2 linked regions of the Homo sapiens genome follow. The gene in region 1 interacts genetically with each later gene. Each region holds a gene or a part of one and is shown on either strand. Other genes may lie near its edges.

What was found.
Region 2: changes in EXOC1 (region 1) and STXBP6 together harm fitness more than expected from each alone (negative genetic interaction), as found in Homo sapiens cells (one study listed by BioGRID).

The regions. Positions count from the first base shown.
Region 1 is NC_000004.12:55,891,646-55,898,667, reverse strand, and holds part of EXOC1 (exocyst complex component 1), read right to left. Parts: intron 6,124-7,022; coding exon of another isoform or gene 6,115-6,123; exon of another isoform or gene 6,034-6,114; coding exon 5,957-6,033; exon of another isoform or gene 5,956-5,956; intron 5,117-5,955; coding exon 4,888-5,116; intron 1,952-4,887; coding exon 1,768-1,951; intron 1-1,767.
Region 2 is NC_000014.9:25,047,131-25,054,727, reverse strand, and holds the start of STXBP6 (syntaxin-binding protein 6), read left to right. Parts: upstream 1-4,580; 5' UTR 4,581-4,850; exon of another isoform or gene 4,851-5,521; intron 5,522-5,727; exon of another isoform or gene 5,728-5,768; intron 5,769-7,597. UniProt on the Homo sapiens protein: Forms non-fusogenic complexes with SNAP25 and STX1A and may thereby modulate the formation of functional SNARE complexes and exocytosis.

The DNA.
Region 1 (7,022 bases):
GCCCATATATAGAAGAGAGGGACAGGGAATTTAAAAGTTTGGAAGAATAAAAATTTAACATTATCTCTGTACAACAAGATTAAAAATGATCTTTACTTTCTTCTTGATTTGAAAATTCTATTCGCTGATTTTTGGGGATAAATAGTTATTTATGTTTCAGGTCTTGTACTGGCTAGCACTTCAATAACAATGCTAAATAATAAAGGATCTAACAATACTTCTGCTTTAAATTCATTTCAGAGGGAATATCTCTACTGTTGCAGTTAAGTATCATGTAACCTTTAGGCCTGAGATAGATTTTTTATCCAATTAAAGGAATATCTGTCTGTTCTTAAGTTTTATAAGTTTTAGTTTATAAAGATTTATAAAGAACGAATAATGAATTCATTCATTCATTTATTATTTATTTTTAAGACAGGGTCTGGCTTTGTCATCCAGGCTAGAGTGCAGTAGCATGAACAAGGCTCACTGCAGCCTTGACCTCCTGAGCTCAAATGATTCTCCTGCCTCAGCCTCCTGTGTAGCTGAAACTCAGGGACACACCACCACGTCTGGCTAATTTTTTAAATTTTTTTTGTACAGACAAGGCCTCACTATGATGCCCAGGCTGGTCTTGAACTCCTGGGCTCAAGCGATCCCCCAACTGGTCCTTCCAAAGTGCTGCGATTACAGGTGTGGGCCACTGTGCCTAGCCACATTACTTTAGAATCAGATAAAGCAAAGCTACTTTGAATTTTAAAAGAAAAAATCAAGGCTGGACACGGTGGCTCATGCCTGTAATCCCAGCACTTTGGGAGGCCAAGGCGGGCAGATCACTTGAGGTCAAGAGTTTGAGACAAGTCTGGCCAACATGGTGAAACCCTGTCTCTATTAAAAATACAAAAATTAGCCAGGCGTGATGATGCCTGCCTATAATCCCAGCTACTTAGGAGGCTGAGGCAGCAGAATTGCTTGAACTCGGGAGGTGAAGGTTGCAGCGAGCCGAGATTATGCCACCGCACTCCAACCTGGGCAACAATTGGTGAGATGATTCCATTTTCTATCAATTTTTTAGCTTTTACAATTCCTGAATATATGCAATCAGATCATTTATTTCAGATGAAATGACATGTCCAGACTTTTCTGTAACTTAATTGTGGGATCTGACACAGGAAGAAAGCGAATTACAGTATTTCAGCACTAATTTCTCTTGTATTTTAGTACTAATTTCCTTGTATAGTAGATATGAAAAACTGAGTCCTAAATAAGTGAATTGATTTGCTTAAGGTTACACACACATCACAGCCCATCATCTCTAGAAGACCACTTGTTAAAATGCAAATGTAATCTGGAAGGTCATGTTTTTGTGTTTAAAAAATGATTTTCTACAAAAAATTAGCAGGGCATGGTAGGGTGCACCTGTAGTCCCAGCTACTTGGGAGGGTGAGGTAGGAGGATCTTTTGAGCCTGGGAGGTGGAGGTTGCAGTGAGCCAAGATCATGCCACCGCACTCCAGCCTGGGCGACAGAGTGAGGCCCATCTTAAAAAAAAAAAAAAAAGATTTTCAATTTTGCATAGTCATAAGCCCACATAAACCCTAAAATGTAAGTGGTTCATAATGAATACAAATAGGTTTTATTTTCCAAATTCAAGAAATCTTTAATGTTAGAAAACCTAAAAAAGATTATAAGATATACAAAATAATGAACCTATCTGCTCCCGATTTCTTAGTTACCAGAAATAAAAACAATAGCTATAACAATTCTTTAGAACATAACAAAAGCTTACCATTAACAAATACTCCTCTGATAAGTTTGGTGTATGCTTTATCCAGGTCTCCACGACGCTCAGCATTTTTGAAGATTGATTCTGCAAGTCCAGCAAATTCTTCAAATTCAGCAACAAATGGAAGAATTCCAACTTTACTCTTTTTTGAGATCTTTACTTCTTCCATTTGCCTTATTTGGTTACTCTAAAGTTAGGCAGAGAGCAAGGGAGATAAATAACCAAGCAACTTTAAAACTACATATAATCATAACAAAATATATAGATGGAGATATAGATATATACATAGATATCATAGAGGCAGGATATTATGTGGTACCTAGAACACTTTGGATGCTTACTAATTGAAGATGAATCAAAACAAGGATAACTAAGAAAAACTAATTCTATAGATAATAAAACCATTTTACAGTAAGTTTAAGAAAATCAAAATAATACAGATTATTTAAAACCATCTATAAGCTGGGGACGGTGGCTCATGCCTGTAATCCCAGCACTTTGGGAGGCCAAGGTGGGTGGATCGCTTGAGGCCAAGAGTTCAAGACCAGCCTGGCCATTTTCGTCTCTACAAAAAATACAAAAAAAAATTAGCTGGGTGGGGTCGTGCATGCCTGTAATCCCAGCTACTTGGGAGGCTGAGGAATGAGAATTGCTTGAACCTGGGAGGCAGAGGTTGCAGTGAGCCAAGATTGCGCCACTGCACTCCAGCCTGGGTGACAGAGCAAGACTGTCTCAAAAAATAAAATGAAACAAAACAAAATACAATCAAGGCCGTGAACTTCAAGTCTCTGTACAAAGTAAAAACAGTCAACACACATTTCTACCATTTATGAAAGATGAGTACAAGGCAATTACTGATTTTAGGTTACAGGAGAGAAGATTCCAGAGCACCTATAGGATCCCTCCGGGTAACTTCTGGTTGGTGGCCACGTGGTCAAGTTTGAGAACCACAGTCATTTCCAATTTTCGTCAGTCTAAAATTTCTGTCTGGATAGACAAACTCTCTATTTTCAGAGTACAGAAACAAAGAGGGAGGATAGGCATTTCCATATGGATTTGCATTATTTAATTTTCCATATATTTATTAGTCACTTAGCCTTAGTTCCACAAACTGCTTGTGCATTATATGACAAAATGCGAAAGAAATGTTTCATGCAGACAGAATCTTAGGTTCAAAACGATCCACGGATTCAATTATGGTTCTATGATTCTGAAGGGATCTAAATCTACTCAGTAGGAATGATTACACTGCCAAATACTTTTGTATTATTTCAGCTTCTACCTAACATTTCATTGTGTTGAGATTTGGGGAGTATAACTCAAAAACCATATGACACATGGATTAGAAAAATAATTATCTCTAGGCTTCTGACATTAGTATAAGAAAACCCTAAGAGTATAGTCAGTTATTTCATATTATCTGTACTAATGTTCTACTTCATCAGTATTGGTAACTGTGAGGTGAAAAACAGATGCAGTAGAAAAGGTAGTGGTAAGATTGCAGGTACTAGAACCAGACTTTCTGGGTTTGAATACAAGATCCATATTTTTTAACTGTGGACCTGGGGAAAGTAACTTCACCTCTCAAACAATCTACCTTATTGAGGGGCTGGGTTTAAGATTAGATGACATAATGTGTGCAAAGTGCCCAGACTTGTGCCTGGTACACAGTAAGCACTCATTTATAAATGCTGTCTATTGATCTTATTGACCAGTGTTCATAAATGAGAGATAAGATCTTATCAAAAATAAGACATTATTGAAATAAGATATACAGAAGTATGACAGGCAGAAGAAACCACCCTCCTCTTCAGTGGCAAACCTATGTCCTTTATATATATATATGCAACTTATGAGAAAATATGAATTTATATCTTTGTCTAGATTACCTTCTCTAGTGCCATGCCTTGAGAAGTGTTCATGAAGCATTTTTTAACCTGGCCTAGCCCAATTCATACATACAAGTATAAAAAATGTAATGGATAGATGGCCGGTGTCTCTTGCTTGTAATCTCAGCACTTTGGGAGGCTGAGGTGGGCAGATCACCTGAGGTTGGGAGTTTGAGACCAGCATGACCAACATGGAGAAACCCCATCTCTACTAAAAATACAAAACTAGCAGGGCGTGGTGGCGCATGCCTGCAATCCCAGCTACTCGGGAGGCTGAGGCAGGAGAATCACTTGAACCCAGGAGGCGGAGGTTGCGGTGAGCCGAGATTGCACTGTTGCACTCCAGCCTGGGCAACAAGAACGAGACTCCATCTCAAAAAAAAAAAAAAAAAAAAAAAAAGTAACAGATAGTAAGAAAGTTGTCAAATTTTTTTCTATTAGGAGGAAAATGATAATTGCTCAGTTATAACAATTTATTCCTAAAATAAAATACAATTATTAAAGCTACTAAACTATTAAAATAAATTAAATAATTAAAATAATCAAATTAGTTTTCTTACTAGAATGTATTAAAAGAAGAACAATAACAATAAACCCAAATGATTGTTTCAATTGTTTCATTAAATCAATGGTCATTGACTAATAAACTGAGATGTCAGTGATTCGGTAGATTTTTTTTTTTTTTTTTTTGACACAGTCTTCACTCTTGTCACCCAGGCTGGAGAGCACTGGTGCAATCTTGGCTCACTGCAACCTCCACTTCACAGGTTCAAGCAATTCTCCTGCCTCAGCCTCCCGAGTAGTTGGAATTATAGGCATGTGCTACCACGCCCGGCTAATTTTTGTATTTTTGGTAGAGATGGGGTTTCGCCATGTTCTCCAGGCTGGTCTCGAACTCCTGACCTCAGGTGATCTGCCCACCTCGGCCTTAAAAAGTGCTGGCATTACAGGTGTGAGTCACTGCGTCTGGCCTCCAGTGGATCTCTTAAGCAACTGGTGCCACTGTGCCACTTCCTCCAGAACTTGCCAAGATTCACAGTGTGGAATGGAAACTAGCTGGCATAGTGCCACCCAACTAACTCTGTTCATGTAGATTGTTGCCATGCCCTGCTTCGAGGGACATAAACAACAGATTCCCCAACAGAAAGCTGGAAATCCCTCGATTTTAAATACATTTACCTATATTTTGCAATGACTAGGATGCTAAGGTATTTTTTTAAAAAAGAAAACTTACAATGCATTTGTCAAAGTTCCTTTTGACAGTCACCAAAACATTTCCCAATGTAGTACTTAGGAAAGAAGCAGGGTCCACATTTTGTGCAGTCCACACATGATGACTCATTTTGACTAACATATAAAGAGAGTTAAAGCTATCAATTTTGTCTCCTAATGCAATTAGGTTGTTCAGCTCTGGCTCAATGCAGCGAAATATTTTAATCATCATTTGGCGGATCATATCTTTCCTGTTCAGAAAACAGACAAGAAGTATAAAGTTATAACAAGCTTCAGGTGAATTCACCGTTAACTTTAATCCACTGGGTATATACAAAAGGACAAAAATACCATAATTAAATTTCAATTAAAAATGTCTAAATAGCCAGGCGTGGTGGCTCACGCCTGTAATCCCAGCACTTTGAGAGGCCAAGGTGTGCAGGTCACCTGAGGTCAGGAGTTCAAGACCAGCTTGGCCAACATGGTAAAACCCTGTCTCTACCAAAAGTACAAAAATTAGCCAGACGTGGTGGTGCATGTCTGTAATCCCAGCTACTTGGGAGGCTGAGTCAGGAGAATCGCTTGAACCCGGGAGGTGAAGTGCAGTTGCAGTGAGCTGAGATGGCGCCATTGCATTCCAGCCTGGGCAGCAGAGGGAGACTCCATCTCAGAAAACAACAACAACAAAAAACAAATAAAAATGTCTAAATATGATTATAGTAGTTTTTGATATAAAAATATTTTACTGATGTTGGGTTTTATCATTTGAATTAGTTTTAATTTGTAAAGCTGGGTCATGAAATGTGCTTTGTGATTTCTAAGAAATACACTACAATTCAAAGGCTTCCCCCTACCAGCAAACAACAGACTGACTTCATCTTCTGTAAGTCCTGGAGCAAGGAAGAGTTGAAGAGCCATAAAATAGGCCCTATTTTAAATCAGTAAAACGTTTGATAAGACAATGGACACACATGCTGGTACTGTGAGTGCTGTCAGGCTACTGAGAAACATCTAGACCCCTCAATGAGCAGCACTCCACATTTTAAAGTTTATTTTTTCCAAAATAAACAATGATAGTAACAAAGACATACTCAGATGAAACAGGCAGTGGTGTGCCACAATTATGTTGCCGTGATAATGTTCCTCCATCCAGGTCCTCTGCTTCAGCCTGCAAAAATTATTCAGGCACTTTACATAATAAAAGACCAACAATTTGACTAGTATTGATATAGCAAAAGCCTGCTCAGTCTTAAAATTCCTAGGAAAGAATACATTATGAAAAATATTTTTAAAGGTAGCATTATGATAAAGCTAGCTATATAATTTAGTATGCTATTTAAGAATGTTCATGAGATACTCTTCTTAGGTTTTATCCAAGAACTTTTGTGGGGTGAGAAGTTGTATTTGTGTGTGCACCTGAGGGGAAGTAGGGAGGTACAGGAAGCTGAACGCAAGGTGTGGGAGTGGGGGCAGCTTGACAACAACCACCACAAAAATAGAAAACGTCCAAACACAACTTTCAAAAGAGAATTTAAAAAATTAAGGAAATCTCATCAATTATTCTAATAGAACTTCAGCATTAAAAAAATGCTATAAAAAATTCTTACAGAGGCCAACAAATAAACAAATTTGCCACCATTACTACCATAACAATGAACACTCTAAACCATTTATCATAATCCATTTCTCATTTATTTTATGACTGCTTTTATAAGTTGGTTGTCTGTGGCATACAATTTTGAGATGATAATTTAAAAAACACTTTATTTGCACTGTTTTTAAGTTCTTCAAAATACTCAAGAAACTCTCTCATCTTATTCTCTTATATGTATGCTACCAGAAAGGCATGCTGAATAGGCACTATGATATCTACTTTACAGAAGAGGAAAGCTGGGGATCGAATAACTGGCTTAAGATCTCATGGCTAGTTAGTAACAAAGCCACAAGGAAGGCAAATCTGAGGCCTCATTTTCTTTTATTTATCATTATTGTTATTTGGTATACCAAAGTGTATACACTCTAACATCATTTTAAAACATTATATTTATCTTGATGACTACTAAAATGTTAAACTAGCCTTTTAAATAATGTTCTTTGCAAAGTAAACTCAGACATTCCTCCCCCCACTAATTTAGAGAATATTTAGGCTTGTAATAT
Region 2 (7,597 bases), on another chromosome or scaffold:
GCTCACCAAATTTGATATCAGCAGTCAATATTTATCTTGACTCTTAAAAGCAGAGCAGAGAAGGAACTATATGTTTAGTAAATTAGAGATAAAATGTGGACCATGTCACCTCAGTCAAAAAAGAAGGTGGACTCCAGTTATAGACAGCTAGAACCCTTAAAGGATAAAACCACAGACCAAGGGTAATTGTATAGGAAACAGAATAGGGTCCCAAATATAAGCTCCATAAGCCCATCTGAATTCCGAAGGTCTCCCAGATCCCATCATACCGATGTTACCAGAAGCGACACATTTCATTCCCAATTTACAAATGGCACATACATACAGTAGGCGCAGACCTCTCCCTAGTCTGGAGGTGCTCACTGCTACTGGCAAGACAGCCATTGTGAAAGTCAAAATGAAATCCTAAACTTTAAAAGAATCCATATTTTTAAAGTAAAAGGGTGAGAAGAAATTACAAAATGTATAAAAATGGGGAACTGAACCAAATGTTCCTGCTCCTCAATATATTATTTCTGCCCCTCACTACCAGGATTCTTTCTCTAGTCATTTTTCAAACTCCAAAATTTTCTTATGGAAATGTTCATTTGCAACTACAAGATACTCTTAAAATTGCATATGTCTTTGGAACGGCAGATAGTCTTGCACACGACTGTGAATTCATTTAATCAAGTTATTTTACTTAGTTCCAACTTGCAGCATACTAAATGAATGCTGATTGTTAAGAATAAAGAGCAAAGACAAGCTGATTGAGATAGAAAAAGGCCAGACAGAATGAGGACAATAGGTACAGGAAAAAGGATTTCAGGAGAATATTGGAGAAGTAAGGTGCAAAAAGAGCAGAAAGGAAAATAATTATTATTTTCACCTATTTCAAGGCCCAGAAAGGCCGGTGCTATACCCCTCAAAAGAGGAAGAGAAATTTATTTCTTTTTCTTGACCCTGTTGAACAGAATAGGCTCAGTTCCTAGGACCAGATGTGAATCTGGTACCATTACAAACCACAAACATTAAATAGGTTTTTTGGAACTAGCTTAGTGACATAGCTCTTGCAGGAAAATGTGATATTCTAAAAAACTTAAAGGAAGTCCTCTTACAGCTCTAGAACAAGGACTAACTTTGAGGAATATAATGAAGATGGAACATTTGAAATTTCCAATATTTTAGAAACTATGACCAACAAAAATGGCAGTTTCATATGGTTCAACCCAAAAGTTAATAAGCTGATGACTTCCTAAATGTCTTATCTGAAATTACATCATCAGAATGAAGAATTTGAAAAGCTACTTGCTACACCATGTAGCAGAAAAAAAAATTTTAAATATAGACTTTACTAGTCTTGAAGACATACTGTGATTGATGATGCATAAGAGATGCTGTTCAAAATAGTCACATTATAATACCCAATTCCAGATCAAGCCCTCTGTGTCCATGTCAATTTATTCCATTTGTTATTTAGACAGCACTTCCTTCAACAGCCGTAGGGAACCTAAGACATCTATATCCATGGGTGTTTTAGGTTGAGGTCGACAGTGGGCATTATGGGTTTCAGGGCAACTTTAGGTGAACTCAGTTTTCCCTTGTATCACTTAATGTGATTAATGTTCACATGGAGGGTTTTGCCACGTGATCTGGCATCCTTACAATCATGAGCTTACTTATGAAACAGGGAAGATCGCTTTTAGGTTTTCCTTTTCTTTCCCAGAATAGCAATTTAAAAGCCTCTAACTTAACATCTAGATGAACCATAAGGTCTTTTTCAGTTCTATCATTTTGTGATTAGATTTTATGGAAAAGAAAATGACTATGCTTGCTCTCACGTGCATAGGGTATTTCTATAACTATATGCAAGAAACAGGCAACATTAGTCTTTCTTGAGAAGGGAAACTTGCTTTTCCTTGTACTGAGCTTTTGTGCACTGAACTTTTTTTAAATACCATGTATTATTTGCTAACAAGAATTAAAAATACAATTTAAAATGTAAGCAAAGCATTTCACTTGTTAAAGTACAGAACCTCTCCCTGCATAAATGTTTAGTTCCTGTTCTTCTTGTTCTTCTTTATGACCTTACCATTATTGTGATTAAAAAAAAAAAAAAATCCTAGGCACTGTGGGAGGTGAAACAGATGCAGAAGACTTTGACGATGGAAATTGCTATTTATTCTGCAAATATTTGTAACTACTTGTTATGTGACAGATCCTGGGCTAGGTACTTCCTCCTTTACATGACTTCTGGAAGGCTTCTTGTTTAAACATCCACGGTCTTTTTTGTTTTTGTTTTTGTTTTTGTTTTCTTTGAGAGGTCTGCATGCTTAAAATGCTTCCCATAGATAAGCAGTGGTTTGTTCTCCATGAATGCAGCAACAAATTAGGTTACCTGCAGGGAGAATCACCTCCCACACTAAGGTAGGTCCCAGGTGTTTGAGGCAGACACTACCGTGATGACCGGTACATGAGTTAGAGAACACTTTGTACAGAGGGAGAGAGTCCTCTTGACTAGATCTGCAATATTGAGAACAAAAAGAGGCAAGTGAAGATAAAAAAGGAAGGTAGTAGAGGGAGATGACTGGCAATAGAAGCTAGTACAGTAGTATCTTACTTCACAAAATTATTGAGTTACCCAAAAGCTGATTCCAAAGTTTTGTAAATATCATCCCAACACATTAGAAAGGCTTGCTAAATTAAAGAAGCTTGCTACTTAGAGCTTTTGTCAAGCAAAAAGGCCCTTATTTCAATTCAAATTTTACATAGATGACTTGTAGGTAAGAACTCTCAACATTTTCAAAGCCCTTAGACATACATTTCTTTGGATTCTCACAAAAACGCCATGAGAATTGTTTTCCCTTCCACAGATGAGGAAAGTGAAGCTTAGAGGTTGAGCCACTTGCCCATGGAAGCCTGGTAGGGAAATGGCTGAGGTTAAGACCAGGACCCCGGCACACTACTCATTGGCACTAAGGTAGCCCCATGACATGTCTCTACAGAGATAGGCAGAGCAAAAGAAACTTACTTTTTCAGGCAATTTTCTCTGATTTTCATAAAACTGTAGCTACCAAATGGGGATACCTAGGGTATCAGTTTTATGATATCCTAGGTATCCCCGTTTCTCCCATTCTTCCCCTCCAAACCATCTTCCTGGGTCTGCTGCCCTGTCCATCTTCACAGAATTCAGTTCGGATTGTCTCCTCCCCCAGCATCTCTGCTATCTCCACGTAGTCTACAAACTAAGTGCAGGAGCCACAGACTGACAGTCAGGACTTCTGCCTGAGCCCCCATCCACAGCTCAAACCCTCTTTCCTATTTCACTATGCTAATGCTTACCCCTTGCACTCCAAACAAGCAGGTCTGTGTACCACCATCTAACACCCCAACAGGGCCAGGCTAGGGTGAGGTGAGTCACAGCACTTAAAGGTTCACCAAAGAATTCAGTAATCAAGGTTAATATTTTAATGGAATATTTAAAAAAATCAAAATTAATATCAAAAATGCATGATGAAAAATAACAAAATTTTAAATAAAGACAGGGTAAGTTTAGGGGTTTTTCCTATTGCTTCAGGCTCAAAAGTGCCTTCCGGGGCACTGTTATCGGCCCTGCAGTGACTCCCCACACAGATACTTTTACTAATGATGTTTCCCAAAAGTTAGTTCTTACAACCGCTTTCTACATTAGTAACGTCTTTCTTCTTGAACGCTCCAGCATTTAAGTGTAGCGCTCTACTGTCAGGAAAACCCATTTCCCCTAGTAACTAGTAGTACTTCGAAGATATTCTGAATCATCTTGGATCCTTTCCAGCACTTTCCCAAACCACAGTGAGCACTCAGCACCACTTCGCTAAAAGAGTGCAGAATCACAATGCTCAAATCACTGTCTGGGGGGTTCAGCAGGGAGGGGACGCAGATATGTTTTGTTTAGTCCAGGGTGTTTTGAGAAAATTGAATTTGTTATCAAGATTTTACAAATCAGGATATTGTACATGAATATACTCCGTCATTTCTGGAAAAATCAGAAAATCTAGCAACACTAGGTCTAATTCTTGCCCGATAGCAAGGGACCCTGAGAGCAGATAAGCGGCCCTGCCTTCGGAGCTCTCTCCAGTTCGCCTTCCCCCAGTTACAGTGCCTGTCAGGCCCCATTAGATCTTTGAGTTTGCTATCGTAAGAATAAAGGAAGGAGCGCACAGGATAAAAACCCATCGGCTGGGTCTATTCGTTTTTTCCTAGAGAAAAAAAAAAATGTTTCCTGGTTGTCCTTTCGAATATAGTCTCACAGAGAAGCTCACAGAAGCAGCCCACCTTTCTAGCCCACAAACTTCCCACAAGCCGTGAAAGTCGCACCGGCTCTTGCACCCAGATCGGTTTCTCCCGGGTCTTTGGCTCAGGGCCCCCGCCCCTACATTGGCCTTTCCCTTCCTCTGCCACCTCCGCGCTCCGAGGCCTGGGGCGGGTCGCGGGTCCCGGCCCCCAGCCCCCAGCCCCTAGCCGCTGCTCTTTGCCCCGGGCCAGGGCGCTCGGGCTCGCCCACGGCGGCACTGAGCATGCTCAGAGGCGGCCGCGCGGGCAGGTTTGCTTCGCAGGCGCTCGCACTCGGCGGCGGGCGGGCGCGCGGCTGCAGCTGGAGCTCCAGCGCCCGGAGTTGGAGTTGCCGGGAGTTTCCCCCCAACCCCTCCCTTTTCGCGCGCGGCAGCAGGAGCCGGCGCGGGAGCCGCGAGCGGCGGCGAGCCAGCACCCGGGCCGGCTAAGCCTTGTCCGGAGCCCGGAGCCCCGCGCGGGGCAGCCCCCCGGGGAGGAGCCTCGTGCTCTGGGACGCGTGCCGCGCACTGGCACGGCAGGGGCGCGAGCCAGGCTGCACGGTAGGACCGGGGCGAGGGGAGCCAGGCGGTCAGGGCGGAGGCCAAGCCCGGGAGATGCGGTTGCAGCCGCCACGGCTGTTGGGGCGCCTGGCGCTCCGTCCGAGGCGGGTGGCTGTGAGGCCAGGGGAGTAGGCAGGCTCCCAGAGAGATTCTTCCAAGTTGGCGGGTGGCGGGAGAGGGGGCCGCGCGCCCCGGCGCAGCTGCTTTGTGCGCGCAGAGAGGGACTCGTGTCCCTGGTTCTCTCCAACCCTGGGACCCGTTGTGCGGGCAGTATTGGGCAAGCCGCAGAACGGAGCGATTTCCTCCGAGAAAGTTGAGGATGGAGCCTTTTTTTCCGCACCGTCCCCGCGATGGCATGGGCCCCGAGAATGCTGCCCCGAGGCTCCCAGTGTGGGGGAGCTCGGGGTCGCTGCGCCTCTAGCTTGAGCGCAGAAATCCGCGAATCACTCCGATCTTCGCGAACTCTGGCATCTTCTAGGAAAATCATTACTGCCAAAACTGAGGCGAGCTTTTCTGGCGGGCACGGCACCCTGCCCCCAGGGCGCTGGCCCTGGGCGATGCCCCCTTTCCGATCTCAGGCTTGGTCAAGGGCGCCAGGTTCCGAATTCGCGCTTGCCGTGCACGCCGGCATCGAGCCTCACCAACACCGCCGGGCAACGTGGCTGGAGTAGGTGGGTGGCTTGATTTTCCCTCCAACCTTTCCTCAGGTTTACAACACCCCGCCACCTCACCACCCCACCCCGTTCATCTTCACAGAGGACAGGACCTGCAGGTGGAGAATTTGGAAAGACATCTTGTTCTTTAGGAGAAAGTCCCCGGGGTGTATCTGCCCTTGGTTCTGGCCCCAGGATTTCATAACGAACCTTCTCCCCTTCCTATTACGCTTCCCTAGGGACTGGGTGGGAGAGAATAGGATCGGTAGGTCCGCAGGAACTTCCATCTCATTCCACCCTCTCCTAAGATTGCCTTCCGGGCGACCCCAGGACCCTGGAACTGGCATTGTGCGGATTGTAAGGCTGTGGAGGATGCCGACGAATTTTTCCTGGCTCCACTTTTTTCACTTCTTGTTTTGAGTTTTGGGGTTTTGCCTGCACACTAGTCAGAGCTGCGCCCTAGTCAGAGCCACCCTGGGGGTGGAGGAGCTTCAGCCGAGGCTGTGAGCTGCTGTTCGTCTCAGAGGCTGCTAGTGGGAATCGGTCCAGAAATGATTATGCAGGCTAGAAATATGCCTCTCTTTTTTTCTTTTTTGGCTGAACACCTTGGCTGTTGGGTTTGTGTGTTACGTTCTTAAAGGGACACCCTCACACTGCTCAAGTGCCAGGATTTAGGGGCTCACCATTCTGCTGCCTGTTTTTCTCTTTGCTTTTTCCTTGAGGGTAGTCTGCTTTGGGGCCGATTTCTAGATGTGCGAATCACATAATGTGGATACACTACACAGTTCTAGAGTCAGACAGACTTGAGGTCAAGTTTCAGCTTTACAGCTGATGACAGTGCTGATGGACAAATGATTAGTCACTCTGAACTTAAGTTTTCTCTTCTGTCAAACGGAGATAATCGTGGCCTTACCTCCCTCCATTGCAGGGTTGTTGTAAACTCAGATGAGATAATGAAAATGAAAAGAGCTAAGAAAACTTTAAAAGCACCATTCAGGTCTTAGATATTGTCTCTGTGCTCTTTACTCAGTTGTTTTGAATGAGCTAATTCTTAATTATAACAAGACATCTAGGTCTTCTCTCCTCTCTGTCCACTCCTCACCAAGTGGTTTAGTTGCTTGGGCCTTTGGAAGCATCTGTTTACCCTTTTTCTTTCTCTATCCTCAAATCCATCTCTTTTGATTTTAAGAATTGGAGCTCCAGTCCTCATATTTATCTGAGGAAGGCAGCATGATGTAGATTAGGAGATGACTGGGGTGGCCTTATCAACATTCAGAGTCCTAGGCCCCAGAATTGGCACGGTCAGAAAGGCCTTAGTTTGAAACTCAAGGCTGATGAAGAAGTCAGCAGATCCTGGAATGGAGCTCTGACTTGACCTCTAATAGTGACCTTGAACTAAGGACTCAAATCCTAATCTGTGAAATCAGTCTATGAAGATTAAAAGCCAGTATCAATTGAAGGCAAGAACAGGTGAGATTATCACTCAGTTAAAAAGGGTTCACACAGGCTCCTGAGCCACCCCAGGTGCAGCATCTTCCCTAATCTTAGGGCAGTGGTTCTCAGATCAGAATCATCTGGAGGGCTTGTTACATCTCAAACTGTTGGGCTATACTGCCAGAGTCTCTGATTCTCTAGGTCTAGGGTGAAGGCCCAAGAATTAGCATTTCTGACTAGTTCCAGATGATGCTAATGGTGCTACAGACCATGCCTATAGAATCACTAACTTATGGAGTGGGAGATAGTAAGAGAGATGACGTTTGTTGTGAAATGCCATTATTTTACTAGCTCATATACAGAGACAAGGTTTCTTTGGGGGTGTGTTGGGAAGTCTCCTTAGGCATTTTATGTTCCAATGCCTGTGCCACTTACCATTATCTAGGTTTAATAATTCTGATTGCTCTTCAAATGGATGTATTTTACAAAGAGGTAGGATTCCCCCTTCTTTTCATACTGTAAAATATGTAGTCTCAGGTTTTAGATCACCCTTGGGTAGTGCCGGATTGGTGACCTTTATAATTTATAAAATCTAAAAACTACCCCATTTCCTTTTTTGGAGAAACCTCAGACATTTGTGGAAAGGAGGTTACGTACAGT